2 separate regions of the Homo sapiens genome follow, and region 2 is linked to region 1. Evidence: fine-mapped expression QTL. A gene starts in region 1. The other region holds a variant in brackets. All regions are shown on one strand. Distances are between the middles of the regions.

Evidence for each region. PIP is the estimated chance that this variant, and not a neighbour inherited with it, causes the effect. A credible set is the group of variants that fine-mapping cannot tell apart.
Region 2: its variant is the best candidate, but not a certain one, in a credible set for the expression of TAT-AS1 in T cells (TOPMed, PIP 0.61).

What each region holds. Positions count from the first base shown.
Region 1 is chr16:71,562,264-71,567,641 of GRCh38, reverse strand. It overlaps TAT-AS1 (TAT antisense RNA 1), which reads right to left and starts at 2,626. Exons shown (of 3, transcript NR_103852.1): 1 at 2,520-2,626; 2 at 1,441-1,591. TAT (tyrosine aminotransferase) reads left to right here. Exons shown (of 12, transcript NM_000353.3): 12 at 1-1,982. It overlaps LOC124903710 (a long non-coding RNA gene), which reads left to right and starts at 2,702. Exons shown (of 2, transcript XR_007065106.1): 1 at 2,702-2,749; 2 at 2,818-3,989. It also overlaps the pseudogene RNU6-1061P. RefSeq lists an enhancer at 1,675-2,206.
Region 2 is chr16:71,596,840-71,602,217 of GRCh38, reverse strand. All of the region lies in intron 2 of LOC105371334 (a long non-coding RNA gene), which reads left to right. Among named protein-coding and RNA genes, the nearest start is that of TAT, 22 kb to the right of the region's middle. The variant G/T (reference allele first, on the strand shown) is at 2,468.

The DNA.
Region 1 (5,378 bases):
GGGGACACATGTATTTGGTGATTACATTTTAAACACATTAGGAAAAGTTGCTATTTGAACTTTTTATTGATTTTTGGGGGGAGTAAAGAATTATTTTGTGATGCAAATAAATATCCTTTAATTGATCGACTTGCCAAATTTAGATTTGTGTGCATCAGGCTTTCTTTTTTTTCTTTTTTTAGAGAAGTTCAATATAAGCTTTTCTTTTCTTTGTTTCTTTCTTTCTTTATTTTGAGATGGAGTCTTGCTCTGTCGCCCATGCTGGAGTGCAGTGGCGCGATCTCGGCTCACTGCAACCTCCACCTCCTGGGTTCAAGCGATTCTCTTGCCTCAACCTCCCAAGCAGTTGGGACTACAGGCGTGAGCCACCATGCCCGGCTAATTTTTGTATTTTTAGTAGAGACAGGGTTTCACCATGTTAGCCAGGCTGGTCTCAAACTCCTGACCTCAGGCAATCTGCCCGCCTGGGTCTCCTAAAGTACTGGGATTACAGGCGTGAGCCACCTCGCCCAGCGGCATCAGGCTTTCTTAAAGTGAGAGCACGCCTGTACTAGAGCAAGCAGGAATCAGAGACCTTCCAGAAATACTACTGTGTAAGGGCCAGAAATATCTTCACTTGTCATTGTTATATAATCATTATTACTTTTGCTGTAATGTTAATATTGATTTATTAATATATATTATCTTTTCATACATTTTCTAAGAAACATTTATATTGATAAGATCTTTTATTTTGCCAAGGGCATAAATTATTGTTTTTCTTTTTTTTTTTTTAATAAATTTCACCAAGTATGGCTCTTCTGTGATGTGTTTTTTTCTCCGTTTGGGAATTTCTAATCCCAGGCACTCCTCAGTCTCATTGTTTCATTACCTATGAGGTTTCATTTACTTCTTTGTAAATGTACTGACTTTTGGAGTTACTTAAGAACCACAGTTCCTAAAACATTTTATTTGGGAGCTCAACTTCTGGCTTCCTACTTACCAAGAGGCAGTAAGTTATAACCTCTGGCCTTTGTCTTTACATTTTCAACTTTCTGGATCCCTAACCTCTGGTCCCAAGTTACTACGCTTGCCTATATCCACTAACCACTCACTAGGTCACAAAGTTGATGGCTCTGGCTTGACCCAGTGAATGAGAAGTGTCCTAGATGTTTTTTTTTTTTTTTTTTTTTCGCAAATCTTCATAGGCACAGTTGCCTGTTTAATTTTTTCTTCAGCCCTTCCCTTAGAGGAGGGAGCCTTAAGTTACCTTTCAAGGTTGGGGGTTAGGAATCTATCATAACTAGTCTAGAGATTTCTCACCAAGGGAAATTTTCCTTATCTAAAAGAGGAACTTCAGGTCTCAACCCTGCCAGTCACACCCAATTAATGTCCTTCACAAAAATAAACAGCATATGTTCCCTTTCAATTTGAGTTCAGTGAGCTCACAGCAAAATTTACCTTTTAATTTTCTTCAGCAAATCCAAGACGAATATACAAAGGATGAGATTAGATAAAGATTTCAGTTTCCCGTATGCCACCGCTGCCGCCAATTTTCCAAAAAAGCCTGGCTCCTCTTTTCCTGTTCCTCCATCCAAGCCCCCAAAGATCTCTAACCAGAAATAAACAGGAAGACTCAGTGATTTACAAAAGACATTTTAGTTTTACACGTACAGAAAATTCTACCCAGCATTACAGAATTCTTAGACTTCTTAAATTCCTGATTTTCCTTGGTATTTACATTTTGATAAGGGAGCCAATGGTTCTTCAAACATTTGAAAAGAACACATACACACTGGACAATTTCAAACGATACAAACAAACGCAACTGTCCTTCTTTCTCATTCCTGTCCTTCAGCCACCCAGTTTCTTCTCCCCTGAGGGAATCAGTTATCATTTGCTGGTCATACTTCCAGATTATACTGTGCCTATGTAAGTGTGTGTGTGTGTGTGTGTGTGTGCACTTTTCATTTTTTCAAATAAAGTATTACTCAACTTTGTAATTCTGCGCGCTCTGGAGGTCAAAGGAGGGATGGCATTGCTGGGGTGTCCCCCACATCCTGAGTGTCTCTAGATAAAAAGGAGCTACCGGGCGGCGGCTGCTTTCCACACAAGCTTAAAATTGCCAAGAGTCAACTGCCAGTTGCTTTGGGTGGTGGCGTCAGAGTGTCTTCAGATAACACGAAGAATGCGTGTAAAGATCGGAGACGGCCGGGCGCGGTGGCTCACGCCTGTAATCCCGGCACTTTGGGAGGCCGAGGCGGGCGGATCACGAGGTCAGAAGTTTGAGACCATCTTGACCAACTTGGTGAAACCTCGGCTCTACTAAAAATACAAAAATTAGCCAAGCGTGGTGACGCGCGCCTGTAATCCTAGCTACTTAGAAGGCTGAGGCAGGAGAATCGCTTGAACACCGGAGGCAGAGCTTGCAGTGAGCCGAGATGGCGCCACTGCACTCCAGCCTGGGTGACAGAGCGAGACTCCATCTCAAAAAAAAAAAAAAAAGGACCGGAAACAAGGGCTCTCAGCTGCGAATTCACCTTTTCTTTGTGTCCGAGCCCCGCCTACCGGGTAACTGGAGAGTATCAGGACTGGGTGCTACCAAGCGCCTCACAGCAGCCCCCAGCCGACACCAACATCCCAACCCTGGGCGACCCGCGGCTGCGCAGGCGCGGATGCATGTTTAGGGGGCTGCGCTAGTCAGTGCGCATGCGCCGTCGCTAGGCAACAGGACACAGCTCCGGGCGCCGGCGTAGAATCTGAGCTGCAGGTGAGGGTTAGTTCCTTTATTCGGCCTCTGCGTTCTCTTAGGATGTTACATTTTGTTTCCTTTTTCAGCCTGTCTACCCTGGTCACACCCTGCTTCGAGTTTCTCTTCCTCCTTTGCCCCCGGTTTGGGCTCTGACTGGTGGAATTGTTCCAGGAAGTTGACAAAACATCCTAGGCTTTTGTAATCACCTGTTAACCTTTCCCAGCTCTGGATCAGAAGCAGCAACTTCCATGAGTTGTGACGCAGAGCAGACAATTCTATTAGCTGGTGTTAGTTTCCAATGGTATAGCCCCTTGGAACTTTTCTCCAAAGAATCGTGGCCCTCACCGTCCGCAGTGCCTGACATTAGGATCTCTACTCAGCCAGAAAAATAAATCCACCCCCGTGCCTTTGTCAAAGACAAAGCAGGACAGTAAAGCGGTTGAGACAGGTTTTAACCAGTAATATACTAATGGAATAAGGAGGAGTCCAGCACGAACTGAACTCAACTTTGATTTGTACAAATGTTACTCAGACTTTAAAGGAAAAATGGGGAAATAGGGAAGGGGAGAGGAATGAGGGGGCGCTCAGAAGAGTGAGGGAAGTGAAAGATTACAAAAAGTGCGAAGTAGGGGTTAGTCCATGTGAAACCCATCTGGGTTTGTTAAAGGGTGTTTCTGGAAGTTAGGCTTTTATCCTCCTACAGATGCTGGGAGATAGGAGCCATATCTTAAGGTGTTGGCTGGAACAGTAAATTCCTTTGGCAGCCTGAGTTTTTTTAGGCAGGCCCTTTAAAGCGGGGCTGGAGTCATCCTAGAGATGCTACCTTGAACTGTTAGAGACTGTGTTAGAGTTTTGTTCAAGTCTGTTGAGGCCTAGTCCACAAATGGCTCAGAGGAACCTGGCTAGAGTTTGGTCAAGGAGAGAATTTTTGTTACTCCGCATATTCTGCACATTATTCTGTGTGAGGTGTTGTATTTTACGTACCCTGAAGTTTGAATTATTGCATATATGTTGGAAAAGAACTGAATTCTCAGTACATATTATTTATATCCTTATTTATTTTAAACAATTTAGGTTTATTTACAAACAAGTTTCATATAATGTTATAGAACCTGCAAATACAGATGCTCTCTATAGGCCAAATTGTTTCACAGCACCTTCCAAAGAGGCAGTCAGTCATTTGCTAAGGTTAAGGTTGAAGCTGTATAGGAGGTGATGCCCAATTCCTCAAAGAAAACAATAAACAGAAGAACTAGCACATGTGTGTCTTAATTTTTGTGTGTTTCAAATGTAGAAAAGAATTATTGGTCTTTAACTCATTTGATAGCCTAAATTTAATGTATTTTTACGTTATACCATATTTAAAAAGTAAAGCTGTGGGAGTGTTCCCTTTGGCAGTGCATATTCTAAAATTGGAACAATACAGAGAAGATTAGCATGGTACTAGCAAACCAAATTCAACAGTATGTTACAAGGATTATACACCATGATCAAGTGGGATTTATTACTGAGATGCAACATATAAAAATCAATCAATATAATATGCCACATTAACAGAATGAAGGACAAAAACCACATGATCATCTCAACTGATGTAGAAAAGTTAGTTGACAAGATTTGACACCTTTTCACGATAGAAACACTCAACAAACTAGAAACAGAAGGAACCTACCTCAAGATAATAATAAGGACCATCTATGAATAGCTTGTATCGGCCAGGCAAGGTGGCTCACGCCTGTAATCCTAACACTTTGGGAGGCCGAGGTGGGTGGATCACCTGAGGTCAGGAGTTTGAGACCAGCCTGGACAACATGGCGAAACCTCATCTCTACTAAAAATACAAAAATTAGCCAGGCGTGGTGGCACATGCCTGTAGTTCCAGCTACTCAGGAGGCTGAGGCAGGAGAATTGCTTGAACCCAGGAGGCAGAGGCTGTAGTGAGCCAAGATCGTGCCACTGCACTCCAGCCTGGGTGACAGAGCAAGACTCCATCTCCAAATAAAGAAAGAAACAAAGAAAGAAAAGAAAAGCTTATATTTAACTTCATACTCAATGGTGAAAGACTAAAATCTCTTTTTCTAAGATCAGGAAAAAAGCATGGATGCCCACTTTCACCACTTTGATTCAACATAGTATTGGAAGTAGTGGCCAGAGCAATAAGACAAGAAAAAGAAATAAAAGGCATTGTGTTGCAGGAAGTCAGGGACCCCAAATGGAGGGACCAGCTGGAGCTGAGGCAGAAGAACATAAATTATGAGGATTTCATGGACATTTATCAATTCCCAAAATTAATACTTTTAAAGTTTCTTACGCCTGTCTTTACTGCAATCTTTGAACATAAATTGTGAAGATTTCATGGACATTTATCACTTCCCTAATAATACTCTTATAATTTCTTATGTCTGTCTTTACTTTAATCTCTTAATCCTGTTATCTTTGTAAGCTGAGAATGTACGTCACCTCAGGACCACTATTGTACAAATTGATTGTAGAACATGTGTGTTTGAACAATATGAAATCTGATTGTAAAACAGGTGTGTTTGAACAATATGAAATCAGTGCACCCTGAAAAAGAACAGAATAACAGTGATTTTCAGGGAACAAGGGAAGATAACCATAGGGTCTCACTGCCTGCGGGGTCAGGCAG
Region 2 (5,378 bases), 35 kb before region 1:
TTCATGCCATTCTCCTGCCTCACCCTCTCCAAGTAGCTGGGACTACAGGTGCCCGCCACCACGCCTGGATACTTTCTTGTATTTTCAGTAGAGACGGGGTTTCTCCATGTTGGTGGGGCTGGTCTCGAACTCCCAACCTCAGGTGATCCTCCCGCCTCGGCCTCCCAAAGTGCTGGGATTACAGGCATGAGCCACCGCGCCTGGCCTTCTATGCACTGATCTTTACTGCATTATCTTACATATTTCTCAAAAACTCTGTGAAATAGGAAGATGATGATGATGATGATTATTATTATTTTGAGAGCAAGAGGGATCTCGCTATTTTGCCAAAGCTTATCTTGAACTCCTGGGCTCAAGCAGTCTTCCTGCCTCAGCTTCCCGAGTAGCTAGGATTGCAGGCACACGCCACCATGCCCAGCTCAAAGTAGGAAAATTATTATCTTCGTTTTGCGGGTGAGGAAGTGGAAGTTAAGTAACTCATCCAAGGTCACAGTTGACTTAAGTGGTAGATACTGGATTCAAAATCTGGGTTTCTCTAATACTGAAGTCCAGGATTTTAAACACTATAGACCAAAGATTTATTTCCACGCCATTTATTTTTTAGGATACATTCTCAAGAGTAAAATTCCTGGACCGAAGAATAGAGATCTTTTTTTTTTTTTGAGACGGAGTCTTGCTCTGTCACCCAGGCTGGAGTGCAGTGGTACCATCTCGGCTCACTGCAAGCTCCACCTCCTGCGTTCACGCCGTTCTCCTGCCTCAGCCTCCTGAGTAGCTGGGACTTCAGGCGCCCGCCACCATGCCCGGCTAATTTTTTGGATTTTTAGTAGAGATGGAGTTTCACCGTGTTAGCCAGGATGGTCTTGATCTCCTGATCTCTTGATCTGCCTGCTTCGGCTTCCCAAAGTGCTGGGATTACAGGCATGAGCCACTGCGCCCGGCTGAGATCTTTTTGTGTCACAATGTGTTTTGCCACTTTGTTTTTCCAAACAAAGAGAACTGTTGTGGCCTACATCTGAAACATAGCCATAGCAGATTGGAGTCCTGTGTAGTTATTTGTCTCTCTTCTGGGCCTCTCCACGGTTTGAGGACTGCACAGTGCCCTCTGAACATCGTTCTGTTTTCTGTCATAGCACCCATGGATGAAGTCCAGGAGGTGCTGGAGAAAACTGCAGTTCTCTAGACCTGAAGAGGTCAGTGATGACACATGGACAGTCCTTGCCAAGGAACGGCACCTGCATCAGCCCATCTGTGGGCCTGGGCGACCTTCTGCACACTGATGTTCGCTGTGTGCCCTATCCTGCTCTCATGCCCCGCCTCTCCCAATCGTACCTTGGTGTTGGTGATTCCCAACGTGGGTTTCACAATCTCCCAAGGAAGGTGGATGAAAGCAAGAAGCAGGCTAGGACCAAGGAGGGTGGAACTCTGGAACTCTGACTCTAAGAGCCAGTTTCCAGTACAGTCTGGACACAAACAAAGAGTGCTGTTCACCACGTTGAGACTTCTCCATTCAGCATCTTTTCCTTCTCTGGGAATGCATGTCACCCCCAGCAGGCTGCAGTCTTTACCTCCACATCCCCTATCCCCCAGAATTTGCTCCAAGTTAACTTTCACACAGAGGAACAAATGATCTATTTCTTTTTTTCTGTTTCTTAATTTTTTTTTTTAATTTAGAGACAGGGTCTTGCTCCGTGGCCGAGGCTGGAGTGCAGCGGTATGATCATAGCTCACTGCAGCCTCAAACTCTCGGGCTCAAGCCATCCTCCCACCTTGGCCTCCCAAGCAGCCAGGACAATCTGCAGGTGCTAATTTTTAATTTTTTTTGTTTATTTATGTTTTTTTAAAAATTTTTATTTATTTATTTATTTTTTTGAGTCAGCCTCACTCAGGCTGGAGTGCAGTGGCGTGATCTCAGCTCACTGCAACCTCTGCCTCCCGGGTTCAAGTGATTCTCCTGCCTCAGCCTCTGGAGTAGCTGGGATTATAGGCACATGCCACCATATCCAACTTATTTTTGTATTTTTTTTGTAGAGACGAGGTTTCACCATGTTGGCCAGGCTGGAGCAAAAAGTTTTTTGTTTTTTATTTTTTTGAGATGGAATCTTGCTCTGTCGCCCAGGCTGGAGTGCAGTGGCGCGATCTCGGCTCGCTGCAAGCTCCGCCTCCCAGGTTCACGCCATTCCTCTTGCCTCAGCCTCCCGAGTAGCTGGGACTCCAGGCACCCGCCACCACACCCGGCTAATTTTTTTGTATTTTTAGTAGAGACGGGGTTTCACCGTGTTAGCCAGGATGGTCTCGATCTCGTGGCCTCGTGATCCACCCGCCTCGGCCTCCCGAAGTGCTGGGATTACAGGCGTGAGTTACTGCACCCAGCCTGGAGTAAAAAGTTTTAAGCAAGGATGAAGGAGAGAAATGTGACATGATCAGAAAATACTTTGGGATGATATTACTCTGACTGCAATACGGA[G/T]AACAGGTTAGGATGAGGGAAGATTACCAAGGAGGCGATTACACATAGTTCTGCCAAGAGGTGATGGTGATGTAGCTAGGGCTAGGAGGAGATGATGAAATAAGGAGAAGGAAATGGATTCCGGAGATATTTAGGAAGTAAATTTTTTTGTTTATTTTGTTTATTTTTTAATTTTCCATAAGTTATTGGGGTTAAGGTGGTATTTGGTTACATGAGTAAGTTCTTTAGTGGTGATTAGTGAGATTTCGTTGCACCTATCACCCATGTGCACACTGTACCATATTTGAAGTTTTTTATTCCTCGTCCCCCTTCCACTCTTCCCCCCGAGTCCCCAAAGTCCATTGTATCATTCTTATGCCTTTGTGTCCTCATAGCTTGGCTCCCACATATCAGTGAGAACATACGATATTTGGTTTTCCATTACTGAGTTACATCACTTAGAATAATAGTCTCCAATCTCATCCAGGTCACAGGCAAATGCTATTAATTAATTCCTTTTTATGGCTATGTACTATTCCATCTCTATATATATACCACAGTTTCTTTATCCACTCATTGACGGGCATTTGGGTTGGTTCCATGATTTTGCAATTGTGAATTGTGCTGCTATAAACATGCGTGTGCAAGTATCTTTTTTGAATAATGACTTCTTTTCCTCTGGGTAGATACCCGATAGTGGGATTGCTGGATCAAATGGTAGTTCTACTTTTAGCTTTTTAAGGCGTCTCCACACTGTTTTCCATAGTGGCTGTATTGGTTTACATTCCCACCAGCAGTGTAGAAGTGTTCCCTGTTCACCACATCCACACCAACACCTACTGTTTTATGATTTTTTGATTATGGCCATTCTTGCGGGAATAAGGTGGTATCGCATTGTGGTTTTGATTTGCATTTCCCCGATTATTAGTGACGTTAAGCATTTTTTCATATGTTTGTTGGCCATGTGTATATCTTCTTTTGAGAATTGCCTATTCTTGTCCTTAGCCCACTTTTTGATAGGATTGTTTGATTTTTTTCTTACTGATTTGTTTGAGTTGGTCGTAGATTCTGGATATTAGTCCTTTGTCAGATGTACAGATTGTGAAGATTTTCTCTCACTCTGTGGGTTGTCTGTTTACTTTGCTGACTGTTCCTTTTGCTATGCACAAGCTCTTTAGTTCAGTTAGGTCCTAGCTATTATCTTTGTTTGTATTGCATTTGCTTTTGGGTTTTTGGTCATGAAATCCTTGCCTAAGCCAATGCATAGAAGGAGTTTTCCAGTGTTACCTTGTAGAATTTTTATAGTTTCAGGTCTTAGGTTTAAGTCCTTAATCCATCTCGAGTTGATTTTTGTATAAGGTGAGAGATGAGGATCCAGTTTTATTCTCCTACATGTGGCTAGCCAATTATCCCAGCACCATTTGTTGAAAAGGGTGCCCTTTCCTCACTTTACGTTTTTGTTTGTTTTGCAAAGATCACTTGGCCATAAGTATTTGGGTTTATTTCTGGGTTCTCTATTCTATTCCATTGGTCTATGTGCCTGTTTTTATACCAGTAGCATGCTGTTTTGGTGACTATGGCCTTATAGTATAGTTTGAAATCGGGTAGTGTGATGCCTCCAGATTTGTTCTTTTTGCTGAGTCTTGCTTTGGCTATGCGGGCTCTTTTTTGGTTCCATATGAATTTCAGAATTTTTTTTTTCTAATTCTGTGAAGAATGATGGTGGTATTCTGATGGGGATTGTGTTGAATCTGTAGATTGCTTTTGGCAGTATGGTCATTTTCACAATATTGATAGACATCCATGAGCATGGGATGTTTCCATTTGTTTGTGTTGTCTATGATTTCTTTCAGCAGTGTTTTGTAGTTTTCCTTGTAGAGGCCTTTCGACTCCTTTGTTAAGTATATTCCTAAGCTTTTTTTTTTTTTTTTTTTTTTTTTTTGCAGCTATTGTAAAAGGGGTTGAGTTCTTGATTTGATTCTCTGTTTGGTCGCTGTTGATATATAGAAGAGTTACTGATTTGTGTACATTAATCTTGTATCCTGAAACTTTGCCGAATTCTTTTATCAGTTCTAGGAGCTTTCTGGAGGAGTCCTTAGGGTTTTCAAGGTAAACAATCATATTATCAGCAAACAGTGACAGTTTGACTTCCTCTTTACCAGTTTGGATGCCCTTTATTTCTTCCTCTTATCTGATTGCTGTGGCTAGGACTTCCAGTACTTTGTTGAAGAGGAGTGGTGAGAGTGGGCATCCTTGTCTTGTTCCAGTTCTCAGAGGGAATGCTTTCAACTTTCCCCATTCAGTATTATGTTGGTTGTGGGTTTGTCATAGATGGCTTTTATTATATTAAGATATGTCCCTTGTATGCTGATTTTGCTGAGCGTTTTAATCATAAAGATATGCTGGATTTTGTAGAATCCTTTTTCTGCATCTATTGAGATAATCATGTGATTTTTGTTTCTTAATTCTGTTTATGTGGTGTATCACATTTATTGACTTGCATATATTAAACCATCCCTGCTTCCCTGGTATGAAACCCACTTGATCATGGTGGATTATCTTTTTGATATGTTGTTGGGATTCAGTTAGCTAGTATTTTGTTAAGGATTTTAGCATCTATATTCATCAAGGATATTGGTCTGCAGTTTTCTTTTTTGGTTATCTCCTTTCCTGGTTTTGGTATTAGGGTGATGCTGGCGTCATAGAATGAATTAGGGAGTGTTCCTTCCTTCTCTATCTTGTGGAATAGTGTCAAAAGGATTGGTACCAATTCTTCTTTGAATATCTGGTAGAATTCTGCTGTGAATCCATCTGGTCCTGGATTTTTTTGTTTGTAATTTTAAAATCACCATTTCAATCTTACTTATTATTATTGATCTGTTCAGGGTATCTAATTCTTCCTGATTTAAGCTAGGAGGGTTGTATTTTTCCC